Regions from separate parts of the Homo sapiens genome. Here region 2 is linked to region 1. Evidence: fine-mapped expression QTL. Tissue or cell type: testis. Region 1 holds a variant in brackets; the other region holds the start of a gene. All regions are shown on one strand. Distances are from middle to middle.

Region 1 (8,103 bases):
TGGGTTTTGAACTCAGCCCCAGGGTCTTGAGCTGCAGATGCAGGACCTGGGGAGGAATAAGGGATGGCTGTCACTGGCTTCTCCCACAGAGGCCCTGCAGCCACTGTCCCAGGAGGTTCCTTATTCGGCAGCCTGTGGATTACGCTGTGCCTGGAAGACTCTGTGCCCCTCCAGAGGATGAGGAGTTCCCACAGCAGAGAGTGACTTCCCACATCTCACCCCAACTTTATCTATAGGGTCCACCCAAGCCCTCCTCTCACCCCCTGACACTTGAACGCCCCTGCACCCCGCCCCGCCCCACCCAATGCCAGAGGCTGAAGAGCAAACAGTGGTGGACAGCAGGGGGTGCTGACCCTACCCCCGACCCCCCAGCCAGGAGAGGTCAACCAGGCAGCTGGGGCCATGCAGACAGAGGTCTCCCTCCCCAGCTTCAAATCCAGCCTCATCCGGCCAGCCTCACACTGCCTTTGGCCAATGGTGCATCCACGATAATCATTACACACAACCGCTGTTCCCGAGGAGCCTTTGGGCCACCATGTCTGGGATGCATTTCACAAGAGGGTGTGAGAAAGTGTGCCTACGACAGAGAAAGCAGCCTCCTGGGGAACCCCTCTCTGGATGTCCCAGTGTCTCCCTGTCCACCTTCCCCATAGTCAGAAGGTTGTCTTGGTGATGCCACCCTCATCTTGCCGCTAAAGGTGCTCAGCCCAGCCTGTCCAGCTGAAGTCACAGGACCTGGCACAGATGGCCGAAAAGGCTGTGGCAGGGACGCACCTCGAGCGCGATGAAGCTCTGCACAGTGTTGGTTCGGTCCAGGCAGTCAAGACAGTTCATCCGCAAAGTGCCTTTCTGAAAACTTAGGACAAGAAGAAATGTAAACGGTTATATGTTGTTTTCAAAGAAGCAGTGGCCATAGCACAGAGGCCCATGTCTGACTTTTGACTCCCAAGGAAACATGGTTTTTTTTTTTTTTTTTTTTTTTTTTTTGAGACAGAGTCTCACCTCTGTCACCCAAGCTGGAGTGCAATGGCATGATCTCGGCTCACTGCAACCTCCGCCTCCCAGGTTCAAGCGATTCTCCTGTCTCAGCCTTCCAAGTAGCTGGGACTACAGGTGCGTGCCATCACACCCGGCTAATTTTTGTATTTTTAGTACAGACGGTGTTTCACCACATTGGCCAGGCTAGTCTCGAACTCCTGACCTTGTGATCCGCCCACCTCAGCCTTCCAAAGTGCTGGGATTACAGGTGTGAGGAAACATGTTCTAAGAGGGAACCCCTCACCTCCTCATCAATAGCCCCCCAGAAACCCCAGTGTCCATCCCAGTGGATCCCCAGCACTTCTGGAAAGGCAGGCAGACCCCAGGACACACACTCAGTAGCCTGCACAGCTGGGTCGTTTTACGTTTAGCTGGTCCTTGTTATTTATAGCAATTATGTTCTATAAAGTTGTAGGAACACTGAATTGGACATGAACACAGAACCATCGCTCCTAGGGGAAATATAGGGTTAGGTTCCTGCAAACCTCTGGTCACATTTTTATCAACTGATCAATATACAACCTTGTTTTATGTATGTTTCCATATAAAGACACCTTATTGAATATATATATTTGCTTAATTAACACTGAACCATGGCCGACAGCACTGTAGCTCATATAGGGACAAAGCTTATCTTAACGTGCATTTTCTCCATAAAGCACATCACCACCTTCTTGTGCTCAGAAGTACTAGACAGCTCTTCGGCACACTGCTTGGGGCCATTCTAAACCATGAGATCCCCGAACAAAGGGGGGCCCCTAACAAAGACCCCACAAATGTGAAAAACATGGTACTAAATCTTAAAAAGGAAACTTGTTTAAATACGAGGCCAGAGTATTTAAATACTCTGTCCAGCAAAAATGCTTTGCATACTGATTTTGGGGTTACAAATCAGTTTTAAGGAATAGGTAAATAAGCCAATATGGAATCTGCAAATAATGAGGACCCCCTGCATGTGACCTGAGGGAACTGGACTTCGTTTTTCTCCTCTGCTCTGAACAGGGAAGTCCATACCCTGGTCTCCTCTAGCAATCTAAGTCTATGCCAGCCATCCCACCGCGACTGTGGCCCTCACTCTCACAGGCCTGCGTCACAGCGTGGAGCTCCATGTTTTAATGCAGTCCCCTTTATTAGTTCATTTCTTTTGCCAGAAAACCATGACTCAACATCTCCTTGAGAAATTCAAAAGCCTGTCTCCTACTGTGGGAAGGGAGATGAGAAGCTGGAACCCAAGATTCCCGGCGTCGCCAAGCTTATGACCCAGGAAACCACAAGGGTAACTGAGTGGGGAGGGAAGGAAGCTGCCCCTCATAGGGCACATGTCCTAGACTGCACGGCCCCTCTGCCGCCTCACCCAGCAGAAGGCACAGCACGCAGCGAGCCTCACCGTGGACTGACGCTTCCCCCCAGCAGAAGACGCGGCACAGTGCGCAGCGAGCCTCACCGTGGACTGACGTTCTCCCCCTTTGTGAACACATCGAAGTCTTCCCAGTGCAGCTTTAACTGTGGCCTCAAGAGGGTCTCCAATTTCTCTAGCTTCCCACCTTTGGCAAACTGATGGAAGTCAAAATTGATCATAGGCGTGTCGCCCGCGTGGCAAGAAGCCCAGAGCAGCTTCTGAAAAGAGGAGGGGAGGGCGGTGAGGGGAGCAGAGGGAAGGGAGGACGAGGAGGGCAAGCTCCTTGCAGAGCTTGACCCGTGCGGCTAACCAAGGTGACTCGCCGCAGGACGTGCTTTAGCTGGAAGCTCACAGTGGACCAGGCAGTTGACCCCAAAAGGGAAGCACAGGACAAAGGCCCTGGGGGGACAAAACCCACAAAGAGCGTCTTGCCTGCGAAAGGGCAGAAGGTCCCCCTTGAGCAAAAGAAGCCAGAGCAGGTGTGGCTTCCTGGAGAGATCATACTCCTGCAGGGCTCTCTGGAGGGCACAGGTGAGGAAGGACTGCTCTGTTCTTCAGGTGGCCCAGGTGCCCCAGGCCCTCAGAGATAGCAGTGCTGTGGCAGGCTGCAGAGCTCATAATCCAGCTCCCC[G/A]TTGCCCTAGTAACCGGCCCCATCCTGCCGCGCACCAGCCTCTGGTGGTTATGCTCTGAAGAGACCAAGTCTCCAGCTGAAGTGGCCCAGGTGGGTCCCACATCCCGATGCTACTTCAGGATGGTCAGGGAGCCAGAGTGAAGGTGGGGAGAGATGGGAAGCAGGTCAAGGGGCTGCTGATGGCACCAGGATGCCCTTAAGAGCCCTCCCTTCCATATGAGGCTTCCCTGGCCTGGCAGCTCCCTGGCTTTCTCCCCAGAGAGCCCCGTGATGAAGGACAAACTGTCCGCCTACCCAGGCCACCCGGCTTCCAGGCCTCTCACCCTGCACTCATGCCCTTGTGGCTTCAGGTCAGGCCAGTCCAGCCTCTGCCCAGCCAGAGGTCCTAGTGACTTGGAAGGACTAGAAGGACTTGGGGGTCATCTGATCTGACTCAACGTGACTGCCTGTGATAGGTCTGAGTGTAAATCAATGCAGTGCTGCCATCATCAAGCAAGTCTTGCTGTGAGCAAGAAGCTGGAGGAGCCCAACAGTGCCTGGTGGCTCAGTGCCATGCATTCCACAGCCAGTGCTTCATCCAGCAGGACTGATGGCCATTGGGCCCTGGGCAGGCTGCTGGGCCACCAACCTTGGTCTGGGCCAAGCTGAGGTGGCTGAGGGCCACCCCAGGCAGGGCCATGACCCAGGTCTTCAGCTAGAGTGCCCCTCCCTACCTGGCCAGGAGCCCACCCTTCTCCGCATGAGGTGGCTGCCATCTCCCGCCCTCACCAGTGCCGGGCACTTCACCCACTGATGGGAGGGGCCACAACTCAAGGCATAGGGGAAAAGGACTTGGGGTTCTTATTATTATTCTTATTTTTTAGCTTTTTCCCTTCTTCCTTCAAATTAGCAGCCAGCATCACTGCCAAGATGGGTGGGAAGGGAGACACTTCTGGAGCTCGTTGCTAATAGCAACAAACCAAACAGGAAAAGCAGGTCTGGCCAAATAAAATTGGCAACCAGGAAGTGCCTGCTCTGAGCATGAGCATGTGGCATTTCTAAGCAGAGGGAAAGGCTCAGAGATCGCCCTAACCCCCAGTGAGGCGACTTCGAGCTCTCTCTGTAAGGGATATCTTTGAGCTTTAAACAACGAGAGAGTTTTTCTCTATTAGGCAGGGGACATGGAGGCTGGTAAAGGAACCAGGAGCCCCCTTGGCTCATTCTGGAACGTCTTGCGCCTGGGGAGCAGGGGGCGGGGGCTGGAGGCCTGGGATCCATGCACAGGGATGGAACCTGGCCAGGTGGGCGGAGTCTCTTGCTCCCATGGCTCTGTGACCCTGCCCAGGATCTGTCCAGGATCGCCAGGAAAAGCCCCCCAAGGAAGTCTGAAGGAGCCCACAGGAGCCCAGCAGCAGCAGGTCCAGGAGCTGCCATGAAAGCCCGAGGAAGAGGGGGAAATTTGAAGGCCAGCCGGCAAGCAGGGGAAAGCCACCGAAGTTCCTGCTCCTGAGCCCTGAGGCCGGGTGCCCTGTGGGGCTGGGGGAACTCACCCAGGACCAGCCAGGGCAGAAAGGGAGGCCTGCCTGCTCCTGGGCTGGACTGAGAGGGGTACCTTGAGAGGTCAGAAGCCCTCAAAGCCCCATGGGGAGGGAGGGTAAGGGACACATGGCTGGGGACAGGAGATGCTCTGTTTTGACTTTGAGCAAATTCTCCCAACCATCAGCTCACAGAAATTACACTCACTAGGCCGGGCGCGGTGGCTCACGCCTGCAATCCCAGCACTTTGGGAGGCCGAGGCGGGTGGATCACCTGAGGTCAGGAGTTCTTGACCAACCTGAACAACATGGTGAAACCCCGTCTCTACTAAAAATACAAAAATTAGCCAGGCGTGGTGGCAAGTGCCTGTAATCCCAGCTACTTGGGAGGCTGAGGGAGGAGAATCGCTTGTACCTGGGAGGCAGAGGTTGCAGTGAGCTGAGATTGCACCACTGCACTCCAGCCTGAGCGACAAGAGCCAAACTCTGTCTTAAAAAAAAAAAAAAAGAAAAGAAATTACACTCACTGTATCAGGGCCCGAGTCACTGAGCACTGCCGTGTTCACTGGTCGGAATGCTGGGGAAGCCTCAGGAAACGAAGGAGGGCTGGGCTGTCAGCTCCAGTCCCTGCAGGAGCCACCTCCAGGCTCAACGCTCCACCATGGCCACCTGCCGCCCAGCCCAGCTGTGGAGAGGACAGCCTGGCCTTACCTTGAAGGCTCTGTTGAGCACCTCCTCTCCGCCTCTGCTTCCCAGAAGGTTCACGACCACCTGCTGCCCGTACTGCTCCTTCAGAAGCACCATGTGCCTGCAAAGGCAGCGGGGTGGGCGTGATGCTGGGCACGGGCACAGGTGCAGACTCTGCCCTGTTCTGCCCCTCAAGGGAAGACGGGGCAGGAGTCATGCTTTCTTAGTGCCACAGTCCAGGACCAGCTGTCCCCCATGACCCAAATCGTGGAAAATGAGCCTGGGTGGAGAGAACCTGCACCTCCCAGCTGCCATTACTACTAGCTAGCGTAGACTTCTACATTTGTTTGGAATCAGACAAAGGATATGCTGCACTTTCTATAAAGCACCTCCCATTATATCTAGAACACCTAACCTGAACTTTCATCAAGAGAATTTTGTTTTTGAGACAGGATCTCAGTCTGTTGTCCAGGCTAGAGTGCAGTGGCACGATCATAGCTCACTGCTGCCTCAAACTCCTGGGCTCAAGCAATCCTCCCAACTCAGCCTCTCAAGTAATAGGGACTACAGGTACATGCCACCACATCTGGCTAATTTTTACTTATTTATTTTTCATAGAGACAGGGTCTTGCTATGTTGTCCAGGCTGGTCTCGAACTCCTGGCTTCAAGCAATCTTCCCACCTCAGCGTCCCAAAGTGTTGGGATTACAGGCATAAGCCACCGTGCCTGGGCTAGAGTCTTACACATGCAATGTGCACATGTGTGAAATGAATCTCTTATTTTGCTTGGTACCCACCCTTCTCAAAACTAGAACAACTGGCAGGAGAGCTCTCAACTCAGCATCCTGTTTTCAATCTAAGTGCTATATTGCATTATGCTAAACCACAACAAGGAGATACAACAAAACTTGCAGGCTTTGGAAAACATTCCTTGTATTGGAAGCTACTTTCTAAATATGTATGTTGAAATATTAGGGAGAGATTCCAATATTTATTCTTGATCACCAGCTTTTTAAAAGTAACCTTACATTTCAAATTTAAACATGTTGAAATGTAGTGCCTTAAACAAAACATAGGGAAATGATACAATGCAAAAAGCAGATGTCAAATTATCGTTTAATGGTGCAATCTTTATGCCTAAATATAGAAAAAACACTGGAAAAAAACACATGATGTCAAAAGTGGTAGAATTTTATATGATTCAAGTTCTTTTCTTCTTTAAACATCTTTCTCTTTTCCAAATTTCTGTAATGACACGTTTATGAGCGGAATTTTTTAAAGAGCTAATAATGATCATGAAAAAAATCATTTTTTTTCTTATGCAGTAAGAGAAAACATTCTCTTACTAACTTTAAGGGACAGTAGTAGAAAGACTATGGATTTTGAAGTGGGTAGTTTGAAGTTAGGCTTGCCTGCTGACTCCCTGGCCTAAGTTAAGGGTGAGCACCCTCCCGGGCTCCCGTCTCCACGTGCAGCTCCAGGCAGCCCTGGGGCGGGCTGTGTGTGGCTTCAGCCCTTGTGGGCTTTCTTTTGGGTCGGTCTGCCCAGAGAAGGTGCATCCCAGGCCTGGCTCTGACACGTGCAGGCTCTGCCCCTGGTGAGGGAGCCCACCGTGGCCACACATCCAAGCCACATCCCACAATGTGGCTCATCGGAAACAAGGCCCATTTCTGATCTCTTCCTGTCTCATTCCTGCCCCTTCTTCTCAACTGGTTCCAAAGCCCAGGGCCAGAAGGAAACTGTTATTACTCATTATTACTCACTATTCCTCATCATTACTCTATGCTGTCCCAACCCCAAACTCCCCTGATCAAATGATTCATCCCTTCTGAGCTGGCTCCTTCATCTATAAAGCAGGGCTACTTCCCCTCCTGCGGAGAATGGCGAGGAGGACTAAAAAGACGAGTGAAAGTGACAAGGACAGTGCTTGGTGTGTGGGACGTGGTTCCTCTTTCTTTCCCTTTATTGTAAAATGCTCGTTATTGGTGAGCTGAGAGGCCCTGCCGACCCAGGTAAGGGGACGCTGGCACCCAGGGCGTAAGGGAGCGCTGGCACCCAGGGTGTAAGGGGACGCTGGCACCAGCAGCAAGGTCGGCATCATACGGGCTTCTTCCTGGGTCACCCTGAGCATTGAGGCCTTTTTTTCACTTCCCCTGCCTACGGGTTACTGTCATAGGAAGCTACTTGGAAAACAGGAGTTTTTCGGGATACTGAGGAATCAGATTTCTATTTGGAAGCATCCTTCTCATCTTCAGGGAGGGACCAAGAGTTCAGCACACCCTGATGTGCACAGCAGCCGCCCGCAGAGCGGGGCGGGGAAGGAGAAGGGGTTCACTGTCCTGTGAGGAGAGACTGAGGCACCGCCCTGTGAAAGGTTAGCCCTTCCACCGAGACTCATCACCACACAGAGATGACAAGACCCCACTCAAGCAGCTGCAGCCAAAGTCCTGCTGCAAACAGCCCTCCTCAGATATGGAGCACATACAGCAAAGTGACAAGAGACCGCCTCGGCTAACAGGGGCACCCATGCAGCTCAGGCAAAGGAAAACAAGCATCCTCTGGGAAGAAAAACTATCTGTGTGAAGGTTTTGCGGGGGAAAGAAAGGATTTACTCTCAACCAAATCCATCAGAGAACCGCACGACTCTTGAGAGCGCAGTGATGTCCCAGAGAAGAGAATTGGGAAGCACCCAGGACAATGCACATGCCAGTCCAGGGACACCATCGAGGACCTGGGCAGCCTGCTTTCAGGGGGACCCTCATGGTGCCCCACTGCGGCCACTAGGCAGACATGTCACCTTATTTCCAAACGTTATCTCGAATGAGGGGAACATA
Region 2 (8,103 bases), 79 kb after region 1:
CTAATTGTGGATTGTTGGCCAGGGATGCTGGTACCGGCTACGGGGCTTCCCACCTGTGCTGAGAAGGCCAACTACCCTCCAGTCAGGTTCCCGAGACTTCATAAAAGCCTTTTAAATCAGTGCCAATACATTTGGCTTTTCTGCCTCTGGAATTTTTGCTCCCACTGATCTACATAAAAGACAGATTCAGATTCACAACCTAATTCTTTTAGAAGCAGGAATTTGGAATAATTCCTTCAACAATCCTGCTAGCAGGCCAGACGGCCCTAGTGTGAAGAGTTCACTTTAGAGCAGGACAGGTGAAGACAGGTGAAGACAGGTTCAGATGGAAGGAGTCCAGCAATCAACGAATCATGGACCATCCGTTTTTCCTAAAAATCACAGCCCAGTTCAAGCCCCTGTCTCCAGGCCTTGCCTGAAAATGATAAGGAACCACCCAGCCCCTTCGGCGAGAGGTACTTTTCCAGTTAGGATCCTTCAGGAATAAAATGTGCTATGAAGGGGCAGCGCCTGTGGTCATCAGGCCCAGTCCCCTCATCTCCTCTCGCCCCTAGGAAAGCAGCTATGTGCATCCGCAGCGGAGCAGGATGGAAGTTAGAATGACTCAGGGGCCGGGAAAGACCACTACCCACGAAGCAGTTACCACAACTTGTCTCTCAGCCTCTCATTACTAACTGGGAGGGACCCATCACAGGAAAACCACAGCTGAAGAGAAAAGGAAGCTACCCCCGACTCGGAACTTCAAGGAAAGGGTGAAAGGTCAAGATTAGACCACCAGCTACGCCAGCTGCCACAAGTGTCCTGTCCCATACAAAAGTAGAGATTGCAGCCTTCTTGTAAAAATTCACCTTCTCGGGTCAGGCATGGTGGCTCACGCCTGTAATCCTAGCACTTTGGGAGGCCAAAGCAGGTGGATCACCTAAGGTCAGGAGTTAGAAACCAGCCTGGCCAAAATGGCACAACCCCGTCTCTACTAAAAATACAAAAATTAGCCAGGCATGGTGGCGTGTGCCTGTAATCCTAGCTACTGGGGAGGCTGAGGCAGGAGAATCACTTGAACCCAGGTGGGGGTGGCGGTGTTGCAGTCAGCCGAGATCGCACCACTTCACTCAGCCCAGGCAACAAGAGTGAAGCTCCATCTCAAAAAAAAGAAAAAAAATAATCACTTTCTCCAAGAAAGGAAAGTAAAACAGCTAGCTAGCCCTTTGGAACACAGATGGGAATTTCAAGTTCAGAGCCATTTTATCCAATAGTGATGCATTTAGGATATGTTGAAAGTTTTAAACAACTTTCTAGTAACATAAGGCTCTCTCCTACAAACATTCTCTGGACCAGCAAAGCCACCAAATGCTACAGCTGCTTTTTAAAAATAGTTTCATTTTACTTAAACAAAACAGACTTTAAAAAATTAAGTTTTCAGGCCAGACGCAGTAAGTAGTTCATGCCTGTAATCCCAACGCTTTGGGAGACCAAGGCGGAAAGATCACCTGAGCCCAGGAGTTCGAGAACAGCATGGGCAACATAGTAAGACCCCATTTAAAGAAAAGAAAAGAAAGAGAAAAAATTAGCCAGGCATGGTGGCATGTGCCTATAGTCCCAGCTACTCAGGAGGCTGAGGCAGGAGGATCGCTTGAGCCTGGGAAGTTGAGGCTGCAGTGGGCTGTGACTGTGCCACTGCATGCCAGCCTAGGCAACAGAAGAAGCCTCTGTTTCAAAAAAAAAAAAAATTTTTTTTTAAAGTTTTCTACTGAAAAATGAATGCTAGGTTAAATGACAAATGTGGACTGCACATGAGTTGAAGACGAGCCAATTCCTTTCTTACATTCTCTGTTCTAAAATCTGGTATACTGTAATCACCACCGTGATGTAAATCTCAGCCCAAACTTCAGCTCCTAATGGAAAATATGCACTACATTACTGTCATTAATCATTTTTAAATCTTCACTTTTGAAAAAATAAAATCTCTTTTTTCTAAGCTGCTTCAAAGAATTCTTGAATGTGTATGAACTTGGCTTAATGTTGCCGTAATCCAACTGAAGGACATCTTAATCTATTTGATGAAACAGTAGTTTTGTACCATGAAATTACTCTTTCGCTTCCGATAAATGTGGTATGAAGTAGACATCTAAAATGGAATGGAAATTTCTGTGGTTTTCTTTCAAGGCCACACCAAATAACCAAACTTAGACTCTTCAGGACAGCACAAATTAGAATAATCTGAAAATAACTTAATCTACAATTCACTGCCTACTTTTGATGCTGAGACTACTGGAGACATTGTTTCAGTAATCAAGTGACTGAGAACAAGCTGGATAAATGCATGTTAATGAAATGATTAGGGAATCAGAAATAGGAGAGATAGTCCTTCCAAGACATACATCCGAACGGGAGTCGATGCATACAAATGTGAAAAGAAGGCTAGAGGCATCTACAAAGCAGCCTGCTGCATTTGCCGACCACCTCAAGTACGAGTGACCCCGGGCTGCACCTTGTTTAGCTAGGAATACCGGCAAGCTGTTACAGCTGGACGCCTAGTGGTGGGAGCTTACTCTCGGGTGTCCACATTTAGAAGTCTAACAATCAGACCTGGTTTCACGTGCTTTGGTGCTACCCAGGTTTTCCTTATAATGGTTAGCACAAAACAAGGGACCCAGGTTAGCGATACCAGGAAGCCACGCATTGAATGACATTACAGAAACAGCCACATAAAAGTCAGGTGGATGGTGTCACCTTGGCAAGCAACTTAGCCTCTTTAGGCCTCAGTTTGCTCATCTGCAAAATGGGGATAATAATAGCTTTTTAGTAGAATTGTGAGAATTAAGTGAGATCACGTACTAAAGCCCATAGCACAATGCCAGTTTCAAGGCTTCTGAAGTCCATAGGTGAAATTCGCTGGCTTGGCAGGATCTAAGACAGCATAAAGGTCATGGTATATTTGTTTACAAGTTCTATAAATTGCAGCACCGATGCTTCTCGACCAAGTATTTACGTGGGACAAAGCTGCCATCAGCGGTTTCTCCAGAGCCTATGTTTTGGGGCTTTTGTCCCCATCCCCTCCAGGAGTGGAGCCGCCAACACAAACCAAAGGGCAATCACTGGTTTCATCAACAGGTGCAAAAGAAAAGGCGCCAGGCACAGGGTCAGGCCGGCTAAGTCAACACCCCGGGATCCTCATGAATACGCAAAGCGCCCCAGCCGGCTATCCAGCAACCATATCCTCTGGCGGCGCGGGCCGGAGATCCCCGTGGAGGGGCGGCCGGCCTCCGTGCGCCACCGGCCCAGCCAGAGTGCTCTCTCGAGTCCCCAGCCCCACTTCATTCAAACAGCCACCCCTCTGCGCGCGACCCCTACGCCCCGGCAGTCCCAGCGCCGCCCGATCCCCTCGGGAAGGGGGGGTACCCGTCTTCCCGAGGCTGGGCGAATGCGGGCGCCCTCTCCTCCGGGCGTCGCTGCCCCCGGCCCGGACTCACCCAGCGTGGCCACCGTGCCGGCCTCGAACAGCAGGCAGTCGTCGCGGCCGCGCGCCTCCAGCAGCACGCTACAGTCCCCCTCGGCCCCCAGGCGCCCCAGCAGCCGCAGCCCTTTGCTCAGGGCCATGAGGGTCGGGCCCACTGCGGGCGGGGGCCGGGGCCACGTCCTCCCGAGGGCGCGCTGCCCGCGACAGCTCCCCGCGCGCCCGCAACTTGCCAGAGTTTCACTTTGCGCCGCCGCTCCCGCCGCGCCAGGCTCCTCCCCGGCCTCCTCCCCTTCCTCCTCCTCCCCACTCGCGCCTCCCCAGCCTGGGGCAGGTGAGGGCGCGCCGCCGCCTCCCGCCCGGCCCCGCGCTCCCCCCAGCGGCCAGGCAGCTGCGCGAGGCCGCGCCCCGGGGCTGAGGCTCCCCGCAGGCGGGCGTGGAGCGGAAGAGCCTCCCGGATGCCACGCATTCCTCGCTGCGGAGGAGGATGCCCCGCGCGGGGCGACCCCGGGAGCCTGGCTGCGATGCCGGCCGCCCGCAGCCTTATATGGGCAGCCCGGCCCGGGAGTCCGCCAGGCTGGACCCGCTGACTGTTCCCGCCGGGGGCGCTGCGCCTCCCTGTGTGGTCGGCTCCTGCGACCCTGGACGAGTCCTTTCGACCCTGCGTGCCTCGGTCTCCCTGCGGGGAAGCGGGGTCATAACTGCGCCTACTTCGGCGCGGAGGCCTGAGTTAATTCGCGGAGGCGCTTAGCGGGTGCGGAGCGCGTGGAGCGGGCTGGAGAAAGGTTACCTTTCACTAGCGTTCTATCCCGGAGGCTGTTGCGGTCACCGACCCCGCCAGGGAGAGGTGTTGGGGGTCAACGGTGCGTTGTCGCGAAGAGACCTGGAGCCGTGATCCCCAGACCACGACCCCCACTTACCACGTGACCCTGACTTCTCTGCGCTCCACCTTCCTCTCCTGTCAGATGGTGACAGCGCCTCTCCCACCGGCTCTGGACACCGGCACGTGTCCGCGCGTGTACGCTGGAGTGTGTGGCCCGGCCTTCTGGCGCGGGGTTCTAGCGCCCAGGCTTGGCCTGTCAGAGCTGCAGGGGAGGTGGGGTGGGTATGGGTGTTTAGGGCTGAGTTGGAGTCACTCTTTGGGGTGGTTTGGCGGCTTAATTCCCTTCGCTTGTGATGGGTACGTGAGGATGGCCCGAGAAGCCTCCATCAGCTGTTTCCATCCTGCCCGCAAACGAACTCAGTTCCTCTCTCACCCCATTCTGCTGTACTGGGCCAAGCTGTTTGTCTCTGGGACTTGTCCTAGAAAGGGCAGAGCCCCCAGAGCCAAGCAGAACACTGCCATGCCCCTGCAGACATTCAGTAATGACCAGACAAGCCATCCTCAGGGGACAACCTCTCAGGTGATGGTTGGGTAATAAATTTGAACAACCCCAGCAGAGATTATCTTGACCCTTAGCCCCTTTCCTTGCCCACAAACTCTGCCCAGGTCAAGCATGATGTGCTCAATATCCCAGGCATGATGCTCATCAGCTGTCCGAGCAGCTTCTTTCTGTGTAGATGGAAACATTACTACCTCATGAAAACAGTGTGCCCATTCAGTGAGGCAGATCAGCCTTTGGCCCACTTTTTGACCTGAAACTCACTTCTTCCAGGAAGCTTTCCTGGAATGCTGAGGTCCCAGATAATAGTGCTTATATAACACCCAGATTTACAGACTTCAGTTCTCACCTACTCATATGTTGCTTGAGAAGTGTTTTTATGTTTTCTCTTAGCCCTGTTTTGCAAATTGAGTGGTAAGGCCTTAGGGAGGGGACCCAGTCTTCCATTTATCTCTCTCTCCTCTTTCCTAACTAGCATCATATAGTCTAAAGTCCTGCACAGTGGCATGCCATACCTATTTTAGAAATTTTCCTGCAGTCAGGACCAGCAGTTGAGCCTCACAGCTTATAGAATCCAAGTCACCATCAACTGTAAAATGAACCACTATTTTATGTACCACTGAGAAAAAAAAAAAAACTTCCAATTAAACTAGAACATGCCACCAATAGTCATCTCTGCCCTGATTTAGACAATGTTAAAATGCACGTCTCAGACTCAAGGAACTACAGTGGCTGTTCCTCCGTCTCTGAGAAATGGCTGGGTGAGCCAAGAGCCTGCTGGGTTTTGGGGCCTCTGCTGTCTGGTTTCAGGTGGGACAGCCCACCTGGGTGGCAGAGGGAGCAGCTTCCTCACATGCGCACTGGCTTGATAGACCAAGGGTACCCAGGCACAGGCACCTTTCGCAGATGGAGCAACTGACCTTGAGGCCTTCAAGGAAAAGGTTGGCTCAGACACCTAAACCCCCAGCGGCGTTTGGGCAAAGGGGTGGGCCCATCTGCGGCAGGAGAGTTGGGCGCTTCCCCTCTCTGAGATGTATAATGCCTGGAGGGTAGGGAATTGGGAAGGGGAGGAGATGGGGAAGGAAGCAAAAGCCAACTCCACCAGCCCCAGAGTAAGCCACAGCAGGAAATGTAGCTCAGCGTGGTGTGGGTGAGGGAGTCAGGAACCCCAACAGGTTATCAGAGGAAACAAAGAGGGGAAGTAGGGGAGACATGCACTGAACGTTTGAGCCACCCTATCCCCACCCCCTGTTGCCCTACCAAATCCATATGTTGAAGCCCTGACCCCCAGTGGAATGGTTTTTAGAGATGGAACCTTTAGGAGCTCGTTAGGGTCAGATGACGTCATGCCAGTGGGGCCCTCTCAATAAGAATGATAGGATTAGTGTCCTTAGAAGAAGAGACAGGCCAGGCGCGGTGGCTCATGCCTGTAATCCCAGCACTTTGGGAAGCCAAGGTGGGTGAATCACTTGAGATCAGGAGTTTGAGACCACCCTGGCCAACATGGCAAAACCCCATCTCTACTAAAAATACAAAAAAATTCACTGGATGTGGTGGTGTGTGCCTGTAATCCCAGCTACTCGGGAGACTGAGGCAGGAGAATCACTTGAACCCGGGAGGCAGAGGTTGCAGTGAGCAGAGATGGAGCCACTGTACTCCAGCCTGGGCAATAGAGCACGACTCTGTCTCAAAGAAGGAAAAACAAAAAAAAAAAAAAAGAAGAGACACAGAGGGAAGGGCCTGAGCATCTGCCGGCCAGGAAGACGGCCCTCAGCAAGAGCCACATCAGCTGGCACCTTGATCTCAGAATTTCTAGCTTCTAGAACTGAGAAATAAATTTCTATTGTTTAAGCCACTGGCCTGTGGTATTTTATTGCGGAAGCCTGTATTATTAGTCTATTTGTGTTACTATAAAGGAATACCTGAGACTGGGTATTTATAAAGAAAATAGATGTCATTGGCTCACGCTTCCACAGGCTGTACAGGAAGCATGGTGCTGGCGTCTGCTTCTGGGGAGGCCTCAGGAGGCTTACAGTCATGGTGGAAGGCAACCAGGAACCAGCATGTCACGTGGTGAGATTAGAGCAGGAGAGCTGGGGGGAGGTGCCGCACTCTTTCAAACACTCAGATCTCCCGTGAACTAACTGAGCAAGAACTCACTTATCATCAAGAAGATGGTACTAAACCATTCATGAGAGGTCCACCCTCATGATGCAATCCTCCCACCAGGCCCCACCTCCAGCACTGGGGATTACATTTCAACAGGAGATTTGGAGTGGACAGACATCTAACCCCTATCAGAGCCCGAGCCGAGTAAGACAGGAGAGGTTTAAAGGAAATACAAATCTGTATTTGGTGCCTGATTGTATGATATGAGCTGCACAAAGGAAAGTGGGAAGTCAGACAGGACCCTGGCATTTTGAGAATGGGACAGCAGCGATACCATCCCAGAGTGAGGAGGAGGCGAGTTTAATTGGAGACAGAGACCGGGTGGGCAGGTCGTCCAGTGGGAAATGCCTACAGATGAGGGGCCAGAAATGAGTATGGCAGCGATCAAAGGGGAGTGGAGACAGACAGGGGTAGAAGGCAGGGGCAGGAGGAAAAGACGATCAAGAAGTACCCCGAGAAAGCAGAGGGGCCAAGGGCGTGACCTGGACAGCTCTGGATCTCACATGAACTGAGTGAAAACTCATCGTCTAGAGGATGGCGCTAAACCATTCCTGAGGGCTCCTCCCTCTCAGAAAAGGAGGCATTTTTTAACAGACCGGAAGGAGGTAAGAGAAACAGCCATCAGGCATCTGGGGCTACAGCCTCCCACATGCAAAAGCCCTGAGAGGTGACTGGTTTAAAAACCTCAGGAAGGTATCCAAGAATCAGGACTCAGAAAAGAAACTTGGTTTGGTGAGAAGGTAACGGGGACCTTTGAGGGGGCAGCTTCACTAGAGGGCTGGGCAAAAAAGCCAGCTTGCAAAGAAATAAGGAAGAAATGGCGCTGTGAGTGTAGTCTGCTGGCTCTGGAAGCCAGGCTGGGAGAAACACAAGATGAACAGAATGGGGGGCAGACGGGATAGCAGAGACCCTCGAGGACTGGCCAGACCTGCACATGGTGGAAGGCAAATAGCAAAGAGCAGAGCAGGAGAGCTCACTCCCCAGCACAGAGAGGCACCTGTCTCTAGAGGGGAGAAAGGAAGTCCCCTGAAAAGGAGGTGGCAGGATCTTCAGAGGGAGGGAGAGGAGGTTGGGAGGACAGGTATGGAGGCAGAAGGG

What was found. PIP is the estimated chance that this variant, and not a neighbour inherited with it, causes the effect.
Region 2: SYNJ2 starts here. The variant in region 1 is fine-mapped to the expression of SYNJ2 in testis (GTEx, PIP above 0.99).

What each region holds. Positions count from the first base shown.
Region 1 is chr6:158,056,544-158,064,646 of GRCh38, reverse strand. SYNJ2 (synaptojanin 2) reads right to left here. Exons shown (of 27, transcript NM_003898.4): 7 at 5,294-5,390; 8 at 2,483-2,655; 9 at 775-856; 10 at 1-46. Among named protein-coding and RNA genes, the nearest start is that of SYNJ2-IT1, 59 kb to the right of the region's middle. The variant G/A (reference allele first, on the strand shown) is at 3,069.
Region 2 is chr6:157,977,456-157,985,558 of GRCh38, reverse strand. It overlaps SYNJ2 (synaptojanin 2), which reads right to left and starts at 3,696. Exons shown (of 27, transcript NM_003898.4): 1 at 3,471-3,696. The coding sequence starts at 3,597. RefSeq lists enhancers at 3,415-3,930, 4,131-4,180, 4,201-4,390, 3,931-4,446, 4,411-4,460 and a silencer at 3,431-4,010.